Linked DNA regions of Homo sapiens. The protein of the gene in region 3 purifies or fractionates together with the protein of the main gene of each other region. This does not show direct contact. Each region holds a gene or a part of one and is shown on either strand. Other genes may lie near its edges.

The links.
Region 1: the proteins of SYT16 (region 3) and DSG4 purify together in Homo sapiens (affinity purification with mass spectrometry; 2 studies listed by BioGRID and IntAct, with this or other methods). This does not show direct contact.
Region 2: the proteins of SYT16 (region 3) and TKTL2 purify together in Homo sapiens (co-immunoprecipitation; one large-scale study listed by IntAct). This does not show direct contact.

Annotation. Positions count from the first base shown.
Region 1 is NC_000018.10:31,400,636-31,404,289, reverse strand, and holds part of DSG4 (desmoglein-4 isoform 2 preproprotein), read right to left. Parts: intron 3,410-3,654; coding exon 3,270-3,409; intron 875-3,269; coding exon 656-874; intron 1-655.
Region 2 is NC_000004.12:163,470,915-163,475,122, reverse strand, and holds TKTL2 (transketolase-like protein 2), read left to right. Parts: upstream 1-1,368; 5' UTR 1,369-1,388; coding exon 1,389-3,269; 3' UTR 3,270-4,028; downstream 4,029-4,208. UniProt on the Homo sapiens protein: Plays an essential role in total transketolase activity and cell proliferation in cancer cells; after transfection with anti-TKTL1 siRNA, total transketolase activity dramatically decreases and proliferation was significantly inhibited in cancer cells.
Region 3 is NC_000014.9:61,819,183-61,822,836, reverse strand, and holds part of SYT16 (synaptotagmin-16), read right to left. Parts: intron 1-3,654. UniProt on the Homo sapiens protein: May be involved in the trafficking and exocytosis of secretory vesicles in non-neuronal tissues. Is Ca(2+)-independent.

The DNA.
Region 1 (3,654 bases), on a different chromosome or scaffold from region 3:
TGTTTTTCACTTTACTTTCTTTGGTTTATGCATTCTTTTGTATCTACATACTTTGCATAATTCTAATTTTAATGGCTGTATATTAACACATCTTAATAATATGTACTCTGTTTAATCATTCCTCTAATACTGAGCAATTTGGATTTAAATTTTTACCCTTAAAAATAAGTCTGAACTCATAGTTACTGTAAAAAACAATTTAATTGATTTTATGTGCTCCTAAGTGAGTAGTAAATGTTTAAATGTATCTATGGGATATATGAGTTTCAGAGACATTTATGTGATTTGTCTGAATTTATTCAGAATAGGGAATTGTGACATTCTTAATTTATGAGTTTGTTAAGGGTTCTGTTTATTTTAAACTGAATAAATATTGGTTCAACGTTTTACCTACTCAAAATGATGGGTAAACTGGTATTTATCCACTACTATTTGTAAATTAAATATTAATGAAACATTTTGACTCATTTCATTTCAGTTCAAAATTTTATCAAATATCCTCTGTGTACATGAAATATTTTTTTCATTTAATGTTAATATGGCAAGAACTGTGGAAACAGAAGTAGAATGTTTTATTAAGTGACTTGCCACATTTTTTGGTAATTGTTTTGCTTTTGGACTTAAAGTCCAAAAAACAAGCTTACGTTTCACTTACCATTTGTTGATCTGACATCCCACATGTCAGCTATTCCTGGTGGCTCATCAACAACACAGAAAGTAAACGGAGACCCATAAGAATGTTCATTAACAGAGATAAGGACTGATGGAGAGTCAATGCAGATGGTTCTTCTTTCAGGAAAAATGTTTGGACAATAATCATTGATATCAGGAACCTCAATACATATGGTTCCTGTAGCTGTTTTTCCAGAGCCATCTGAAAGAGTAAGGGTCATTGGTGTTGAGGTAAATGGTGTTAGGGAGAAAACTCTTTCTCATATCCCCTGATGATGCCATGGAACTTGTAGGAAACATATACGTGACTTGGGAGGCTTGACAGGTTCCTGCCCGCTTCAGTGACCCAAAGTCACTCTTCCCTTTGTGTGCTACCTTCCAGCCACACTGCTTCTTTTGAGTTCTTTAAACAAGTTTCTTTTTTACTCTGGACTCTGGCACATTCTTTTCACCCTTCCTAAAATGTTTTCCACCCTCATTTCATTTTGCTAATTCTGACACATCCTAAGGCGCAAAATCAAATGTTCTTCCTCCGAGAAGGTTTACTGGTTTCTAATCTCACCCTGTTCCCATAAATTAGACCCCCAGGTCAGTTATGAACCTCCATTCAGGATGCTCACTGAGTCCTGTGTTTGTAGAAATAACCACAGCTGAAATAAATACTTGTTTGTGTTTTTCTTGTGTGCTCACTGTTTATTTTAATTGCATCTGTTACATGCTATTTCTTTCTGAAATGGCATTTCTGAAAACAAATATAAGTCTATTAGATTTTTCCCTAATCCACTTGAAACAAGTTTTTGGATAGTATAATTAATCAGAAAGGGCCAAAGACTAAAGATTAGGAGTCCAGGAGCTTTTTAGTCCACTTTTCTACTCTATGTTCTGTTACAGCGAATACGGAATTTTTTTTGCTTCTTTTTAACTTGAAAAGAATCTTAGCTTTCTCGCTTTTAAACTAGAACGTTGTCGTCTCTGGGGTACCTTACTAGGTCCTTTTCTGAGAAAGCAATAAATTCCTTTTACAGATGTTTTCTGTGTGCCTAAGTAGTAGTCATTGAGGTAACTGAATGAGAATAAACTGAGAGCCTACCTATAGTCTATATGATTTTGTATAATATGTTTATATACCCTATTCAGCATTGGACTTGTTTTTACTAGATGAAGGATGTCGATTTCACTTAGCTTCTCATTCGAGAGGCATCAGATTATTCCACAGATTGTTTTATTTGTCATTCTTTGATCTTTGGTAGCTCTTCTATTACCTTGTGATTGGCAACCAAAGCTCAAGCTATTGCTTATAGTGTTTGCTTCCCAGTAAAGTTTGCTCTGCATAGAGGTCTGTCTCTTCACCTGATGATGGTGTGTGCTGAAGCAAACTTATTCCAACCATTCAGATAGCTCTGTGCCAGTGCAGACACTCTGCTTAGGTGAATAAACAATCAGCTTTGTTTCTGGGTTTCTCTTGGTACATTTTGACAGCACTTTCTCTCTCTTTATTTGCTTGGAATGACTAATTATTTATTCTAGCATTTGAAGATTTTTCACATATGACCAATATGCAAACATAGGGTGCAATCAACATGGTTAGAATCCATTTTCAAATTAGAGCTTCCAGAATACTGATAATGAATAAGACAATGTTATTTATAAAACTGACCCAGGCGTTAAAATTTACCCGCCACAGGATGAAGCCCAGGATGTACAGATGATAGTTGGTTTGGTTTTATCATGGTTTCTTTTTGAATTTTATGCTGCTTCTTTATCTTTATTTTTGTTTTGATACTGGAAAGGTCAGCTATAAACTCAATGCAAACCTACAGTATCTGTCTTACATTAGGCATGTATCTTGGACGCCTGTCTTTCCCCTTCCTTCGTGGTTCCTGACCTTTGTCTCTTGTTTGGTTCTACAGCAGCTGGTTTCCTAGGCACTGCTTCATAGAATCATTAACTATTGATAAATAAACAAATCCTGTTGCTGCTCACCAAGAGGACTGCTTAACAGATTTACCCATGTGAGAGGTGGCTCGCTTACAAGTTAAGTCAGTGCATCTGTATTTATGACTTTTAATATGGATCTTATATTTGGAATAATCTGTGCTTTCTTGGTCCATAGCATCTTACTATGGAAATATGTCTAATCAAGCAACACTCACACAAGCTTCTCACTGTAGTTCAGTTTTAATGGATCTAAAATAATTGTATTCTTGGAGACATTGCTTTCCCACAAGGTGATCCCCAAATGAACTTTGTAGAGCACGTAGCCCTTACTTTAAGTAAACATTCCCAACATACCCTACAAGTGAGATTAGCCATACTCAAGAGACAAAGTCATAATCAGAAGATGAATTATATTTTAACTTTTATGCTGTAAGCCATATACAACTCAGTTTTGGAAGTAGATGAAATAAACTATGGCTTCAGTGTAAATTATGATTTTAATTGACTTCAATTCTTGATTTAAGGTGTTTAGGGCTTTCCATAAGTCTTGCATACACCATTAAAAATGTCTGAGTCACTCAAATATCAGCATTAGAATAACATAATATTTAATATAATAGTACTAGTTTTCTTAAAATACTGAAAATAAATTTTCTTACCATCTATAGCCAGGATCTCTGCTGTGTATATCCCATTGATAATATATTTTGACTTCTTATCAAATTCTCTAGAAAATTGTATCTCACCAGTTCTTGAATCAATTTTTAACCAGCTGCCTGCATCATGCCCTATGATATATCTGTTTTTAAATAAAAAAGTTCGTTATCATGCTTTTATGAAAGTTAGTACTTTTAAATCATGTAACAGCTACAATGTGGCAAACTTTAATATTGTGTTTTTATGTTTTATAGTGATGATTGCCTTGGTTTATAAAAAGTACATATATATCAATAAAAATTCAATGATATATACATTAATATACAGGTCTGCAAGTTTTAAAATTTCATCATTTTTACTCTTCTGGCTCCTAGGATAATTGTTAAT
Region 2 (4,208 bases), on a different chromosome or scaffold from region 3:
TGACAAACCATAACCTTGGCCTGCTAGAAGAGTTCAATGGCACAAATTTAGTTTTTTTTGTTTTAGACGGAGTCTCGCTCTGTCTCCCAGGCTGGAGTGCAGTGGCACAATCTGGGCTCACTGCAAGCTCCACCTCCCAGGTTCACGCCATTCTCCTGCCTCAGCCTCCCGAGTAGCTGGGACTACAGGTGCCCATCACCACGCCCAGCTAATTTTTTTGTATTTTTAGTAGACACGGGGTTTCACCGTGTTAGCCAGGATGGTCTCGAACTCCTGACCTTGTGATCCGCCTGCCTCGGCCTCCCAAAGTGCTGGGATTACAGGTGTGAGCCACAGCACCCGGCCCACAAATTTAGTTTTTTAAAGTAAGTAACTTTGTCTTAAAAATGATTTGTAGTAATAGTCATTAAAAGATAAACTGAGGCACATTAAAATATTAAAGCATTTATTTGACCATTCAGTGATTCATGAATCTGGTAGCTCCTGATAAAGGAGCCAAGGAGAAGGCTTTTATAGGGTGAATTTGGAAGCAAAGGAAAGATATTTGATTGGTTAAAGTGGAGTACTAGACTTATTTGGGTCATCCCAGTGGAAAGTCCCCAGTTAGAAGTTAGCTGGCAGTTTCTGATTGATTAAGCTTAAATTTCCTTTTTATCATTTACACTGATTTGGGTTTCCTTTCCTTAGGTAGGAACTCATGGAGCTGAAGCTACCTCAGCCTACTGGCCTTCTAATTATTTCAACACAGAAATAGTACTTTACGGCACACTGGAGTTGCAATTCTATTCTGCAATTGGGTGGTTTCAGATTTGTTCTTCCTATAAATTTTGGTCAAATTAGTCATTGCATTTCTTTCTATAAGTCTGAGATTCAGATATTTGGTTGCTCTGAGAAAGTCTCTGTTGAGATAGCATTGCCATACTGGTCAGATTGAAAGTGACTTTGTATCCTTTCTATTAATGTTCTGATATGAAAGAGTGATGACTCGGATATAGTGTTAATGCATTAAAAAAGCACAGCCTGACAAATCGCTTCCTATAATACACAGAAAAATGTCTAGTCTTGAATTTATAACACAGGGAAAGGTAAAAAATTTAATTATGCTTCCTAATGTTGAACATGCACGTGACAAAGTAAATACTAAAAATCCATTCAGCTGGGCGTGGACAGGGAGAGGGAACGGTGCACATCAGAGGGTGCAGGCTACTCCAACGTTTCCGTTTCCTCAGTCTCGCGGGAAGCTCCGTTGTGGGCGCCCCGGCTGGTGGCTGAGCTCAGGCCTTCAGGCAGAGGGGAGGCGAGGGCGGGGCGGTCACGTGAGAGCACTGCCGCGGTGGGTTGTGGGGGTGCTGCGGCGCCGTTTGCTTTGCCAAACCGACAAAAGAGAGATGATGGCCAACGACGCCAAGCCCGACGTGAAGACCGTGCAGGTGCTGCGGGACACAGCCAACCGCCTGCGGATCCATTCCATCAGGGCCACGTGTGCCTCTGGTTCTGGCCAGCTCACGTCGTGCTGCAGTGCAGCGGAGGTCGTGTCTGTCCTCTTCTTCCACACGATGAAGTATAAACAGACAGACCCAGAACACCCGGACAACGACCGGTTCATCCTCTCCAGGGGACATGCTGCTCCTATCCTCTATGCTGCTTGGGTGGAGGTGGGTGACATCAGTGAATCTGACTTGCTGAACCTGAGGAAACTTCACAGCGACTTGGAGAGACACCCTACCCCCCGATTGCCGTTTGTTGACGTGGCAACAGGGTCCCTAGGTCAGGGATTAGGTACTGCATGTGGAATGGCTTATACTGGCAAGTACCTTGACAAGGCCAGCTACCGGGTGTTCTGCCTTATGGGAGATGGCGAATCCTCAGAAGGCTCTGTGTGGGAGGCTTTTGCTTTTGCCTCCCACTACAACTTGGACAATCTCGTGGCGGTCTTCGACGTGAACCGCTTGGGACAAAGTGGCCCTGCACCCCTTGAGCATGGCGCAGACATCTACCAGAATTGCTGTGAAGCCTTTGGATGGAATACTTACTTAGTGGATGGCCATGATGTGGAGGCCTTGTGCCAAGCATTTTGGCAAGCAAGTCAAGTGAAGAACAAGCCTACTGCTATAGTTGCCAAGACCTTCAAAGGTCGGGGTATTCCAAATATTGAGGATGCAGAAAATTGGCATGGAAAGCCAGTGCCAAAAGAAAGAGCAGATGCAATTGTCAAATTAATTGAGAGTCAGATACAGACCAATGAGAATCTCATACCAAAATCGCCTGTGGAAGACTCACCTCAAATAAGCATCACAGATATAAAAATGACCTCCCCACCTGCTTACAAAGTTGGTGACAAGATAGCTACTCAGAAAACATATGGTTTGGCTCTGGCTAAACTGGGCCGTGCAAATGAAAGAGTTATTGTTCTGAGTGGTGACACGATGAACTCCACCTTTTCTGAGATATTCAGGAAAGAACACCCTGAGCGTTTCATAGAGTGTATTATTGCTGAACAAAACATGGTAAGTGTGGCACTAGGCTGTGCTACACGTGGTCGAACCATTGCTTTTGCTGGTGCTTTTGCTGCCTTTTTTACTAGAGCATTCGATCAGCTCCGAATGGGAGCCATTTCTCAAGCCAATATCAACCTTATTGGTTCCCACTGTGGGGTATCCACTGGAGAAGATGGAGTCTCCCAGATGGCCCTGGAGGATCTAGCCATGTTCCGAAGCATTCCCAATTGTACTGTTTTCTATCCAAGTGATGCCATCTCGACAGAGCATGCTATTTATCTAGCCGCCAATACCAAGGGAATGTGCTTCATTCGAACCAGCCAACCAGAAACTGCAGTTATTTATACCCCACAAGAAAATTTTGAGATTGGCCAGGCCAAGGTGGTCCGCCACGGTGTCAATGATAAAGTCACAGTAATTGGAGCTGGAGTTACTCTCCATGAAGCCTTAGAAGCTGCTGACCATCTTTCTCAACAAGGTATTTCTGTCCGTGTCATCGACCCATTTACCATTAAACCCCTGGATGCCGCCACCATCATCTCCAGTGCAAAAGCCACAGGCGGCCGAGTTATCACAGTGGAGGATCACTACAGGGAAGGTGGCATTGGAGAAGCTGTTTGTGCAGCTGTCTCCAGGGAGCCTGATATCCTTGTTCATCAACTGGCAGTGTCAGGAGTGCCTCAACGTGGGAAAACTAGTGAATTGCTGGATATGTTTGGAATCAGTACCAGACACATTATAGCAGCCGTAACACTTACTTTAATGAAGTAAACTAGGCTTATTTCTAAAAAGTCAAGTCTATTGGCTTTGGCCCAAAAGCACTGGTATCTTTGTATTAAATTCATGTTTATTGTCACAAAACCATTATTTATACCTATACAGTTGTACTGTTTCTTTTAAAGCAAAGCCATTTAACATCTTTCTTCATTCCTAATTTGGAAATTAAAGTTTACCTTTCTGTTAATCTATGTATAAATGTTACTCTGAGTTATTAATGTGGATTTTAAAATTGTAAGCAATAGAATAGGAAATAAAACAACTACCTAATACAAATATTTCTGATAAGACTACAAATATCTGACTGAGCTGGGGATTAAAGTAGAGGTAACTGTATCTTAAATGAGTATGATTTCCTTGTAAGTTAAAAAAATTGAAATTTAATTGTAGACTTCAATAGTCCAAGTTTTGAAGGATGTTTGAGCTTTTGTATAATGCCATTTATACCTGCAGTTTTACAGATAATGTTTGACTGCAGTTGCCTTGGAAATTCCTCCAAAGTTTGCCTTCATCTCTCCTCTACAGTTTGGAGGTGATGGTGCAGCAGTGGAACATCTCTTGATGCACCACACTACTTGTGTTCTGTGAAGTGATGAAAGTATAACTGGTTCTAGTTTGCACACTACACACATAGTTTTGTGAAGCTTCAGAAATGTTTTTTCTTTTCCTTGTGGCCAAACCAGTTTGTTAATCTGATTATATTCATCTGCTAATGATACTAAAGTTAATGTAATAAAGCATTTAAAAATCAGATACTTCAGTCTGTGCTGTGTATGTGGGATTTGATTTCTTCCTGATGAAATCCTAAATAAGGAGAACTTGTGTCTAAATAAGAAACAGAGAGAGTCATGACCCCCAGAAGCAAACCTGGAAAAAGGTTGAAGCTGGAGATAAGTTACTAGAGAAGATTGTATGGACTAAAAAGCCATCCCT
Region 3 (3,654 bases):
ACCCACTTTCAACCTGAGTTTCAGAGCATCATCCTGACTTCCTGTGTTTTTTAATTTTTCCAAAAATGAGACAATTTGAGTGTTTTCATTTTTATAAATCTGTAACATTTGCATAAAATTCACAAAGCATACTGCCTTCTGCTTCTTCAGAGCTCACCACAGCAGCCTCTTATTCAGATGGACTTCCCCAATAGCAGCTCAAACACCAAAAATTACCCTTCCAGCGCCATTGTTTCTACAGTGCAACAGCTCTCAGGTTGGAAAGAAGAGAACAATTTCTTCTCTGACGGAGGCAGTTATTTCAGGCTTTACCACCTGCAATGGTTAACAGTAGGTGTCAACTTGACTGGATTGAAGGATGCCTAGATGGCTGGTGAGCAGTGTTTCTGGATGTGTCTGTGAGGGTGTTTCCAGAGAAGAATGATGCAGGAGTCAGTGGCCTAAGAGAAGCAGACCAACCCTCAATATGGATAGGCACCATCCAGTTGGCTGGTGGCCCCACGAGGACAAAGAAGGAGTGTGGGAAAAGATGGGGGATCCACCCTCTGCTCTGTCTCTCCCTGCCAGAGCAGGACTTTCTCCTCCTGCCCTTGGACGTGAGACTCCAGGTTCTTCAGCTTTTGGATTGTTGGACTTGTACCAGCAAGCTCCTAGAGGCTCTCAGTCTTTTGACCTCAGACTGGGAGCTGTACTGTTGGCTTCCCCAGTTTTGAGGCTTTCGGAATTGGACTGAGCCATGCTACCAGGCTCTCTGACAGCCATGCCACTGGCTTCTCTGGTTCTGCAGCTTGCTCATGACCTATGCTGGGACTTTACCTTTGTGATCGTGTTAGCCAATTCTCCCCTAATAAATCCATTTTTATAGATATATCCTATTGGCTCTGTCCCTCTGGAGAACCCTGACTAGTACACCATCCCAATGATATCTAAAGTCTTAAAGAGGAAATGTAATACTCCAAATAAAAATCTAATTGAAGAAGTAGATATAAAAGTTTCATGGGGAGTATAGCAGACAGACTCTAAGATGGTTTATGATTATCCTCATCTCCTAGTACTCACATCCTTGTTTAATCCCTTCCTTTTGAGTTAAGAAGGAACCTATGACTTGCTACTAGCCAAGAGAATACAGCAAAGGTGATGGAATGTCACTTGCATGATTCTATTACTAGCAGACTTTCTCCCTTGCTGGCTTTGATGAAGCAAGAGGCCATACTGGGAGGTTCACATAGAAGGAAATTGAGGGTAGCCTCTAGCTAAAGCCAGTAAGAAATTGAGGCCCTCAGTCCATCAGCCTGCAAGAGTCTGAATCCTGTCAATGCCCATGAGCTCAGTAGTGGATCTGCCCCACTCAAGCCTTCAGATGAAAGCCCAGCCATAGCTGACACCTTGATTGCAGCCAGCAAACTCCTGACCTACAGAGCTGTGGAATGACAGATAAGTGTTTTTTTAAGCCACTAGCTTTGTGGTAATTTGTTATGCAGCAATAGATAACAAATATAGGGGAGTATTTAAAAAACACTGTAGAAAATATGACTGTGATTCTAATTATCACCACTAAAATCTAACAATTGATTTGGGCTAGTTAGGAAAGATATTGTAATGCACTTCTAAAAAGTCTAAGAAATAGGATGATAGGGGTTAAGGGAGAGGGGTCATCCTCTACCTTTTTCTTGTGGAGAAGAAGGGGAGGGCTGTTGAAGGCAGCCCAGCGGCTGAGGGCTCTGCAAACCTGACACTAATAGAGCTGGTGTGTCTCAGCCAAAATACCAAGAATAGTGAAACCAAAGGGAAAAGCATATTGGCAGGTATGGGGAGTTAGAGCAAGAGCTGGGAAGCAAGAGAGACAGGGAATGTCAACATGGGCAGTGGGAGGATCCCAGAGCAGATGTCTGAGACAGAGAAAGGCTACTCCCAGAAGGAAGGGCTGGATGGCTAAGGTCAGCACCAGTGGAGACAAGGTCATTTATGTATGAGTATTACTAGCATATTAAGCTTTTTTAAAGCTCAATAATGGAACAGCCAGAAATTTTTCAGGCTTATCAACATCATTGAAGGGGCTTTTATAAAACTTCAGAGCCAGGAGGGCATTCAACTCTGAAAACTGAGGCGGGCTGATCACTTGGGGTCAGGAGTTCATGACCAGCCTGGCCAACAGGCTGAAACCCTGTCTCTTCTAAAAATACAAAAGTTAGCTGGGCATGGTGGCAGGCACTTGTAATCCCAGCTACTCAGGAGGCTGAGGCAGGAGAATCGCTTGAACCCAGGAGGCGGAGGTTGCAGTGAGCCGAGATCGTGCCACTGCACTCCAACCTGGGCGACAGAGCGAGACTACGTCTCAAAAAAAAAAAAAAAAAAAAAAAAAAAAAACTCTGAAGAGGTGCCCTGAAGCATATCCGCCCAGTGCTATAGCCATCCATCAGTCATTCCTGAGAGGGGTAGGCCACGAAGCCCAGAGAGATCGCCAAATGCACATCAGCGGAGAAGTGCTCAAAACCCTCTTGCCTCTTAAATCAAAGAGGTAGCTGTTGTAGCCCTTTTCACAGCCCATCAGTGAATTCTCCCAAGGTTTCTACAAGTTGTGTGTGTGCACATTTCACAAATCCACATGCTCATGGTACAAGTACACTTGCACAAAACAATAAACATTGGGGAAGAAAACATGATTATTACTTCTATTTAAAATCTGAGTTCTGCACCTTTGGGTGCTTGTCCTAGATTCTCTTCCCTAGTCTTACATTTGTACACAGATCATTTGTTCTTAATTTTATATTCCTCACACACAAAAAATGGAATCAATGACTAGGCACCCTGTTTCTGAGTCAGATTGTTCTCATAATATGAGGTACACCCTATGGGGAGGTACACGCCATTGGAAGGATCTTGTAGCAGGTAAAGGGACAGACATTTATTAATGCATATGTTGTGCCAGCAACTCTGTTCCATCTCTTTTACTCCTTGTAATTCCTCAGAGTGGAATAAGACAAAGCCTCCGGGAAGTTAAACAATTTACCTCTTACCCAGCCTTTGAGTGGCAGGACCAGAGTTCACGACTCAGGCACCTCTGGAACCAGGCCTGTGCTCTCTTCCACCATACCACACTCAGTTCTTCAATCTTTTGCAATTTCTATTGAGCTAAGCCAATTGAAAACCTCCTTGTAATTGGTAGGTTATCTGTATGGTGCTCTTTTGAATTAAGTATATAAACCAGGGGCATTTTCATGCAGGGTGGGTAAAATCATTTTATGTCTCTTAATCTTTGCTCCATTGTGAGTAAAATTATAGAATGTGACTTATTATATTCCTAAAATTAGACGCCAGAAGAATATTATATTCTCACAATAAGAAAATTTTATTCTAAAGGGGTAATATCCATCCATAAATGTAAACTACCTAAAATCAGATATGTATAATCCTTAATGGAAGGATGACAGCTGTGCATAAAATTTTTTTTGTAATATGCACTTCAGATACCTCTCCAATCTACTAGAAAGCACTGTCAGTGAGTTTGATTATCATCTTAATATACAGACAATTGTTAAATGGCATAATAGCCATCTTATCATTCATAATGCTAAATAATAGTTAATGACTAAATAATACCCTAGTGATCTAAAAGGACAAATGTCATCCAAATCTACTATACTCAGGAGAAGG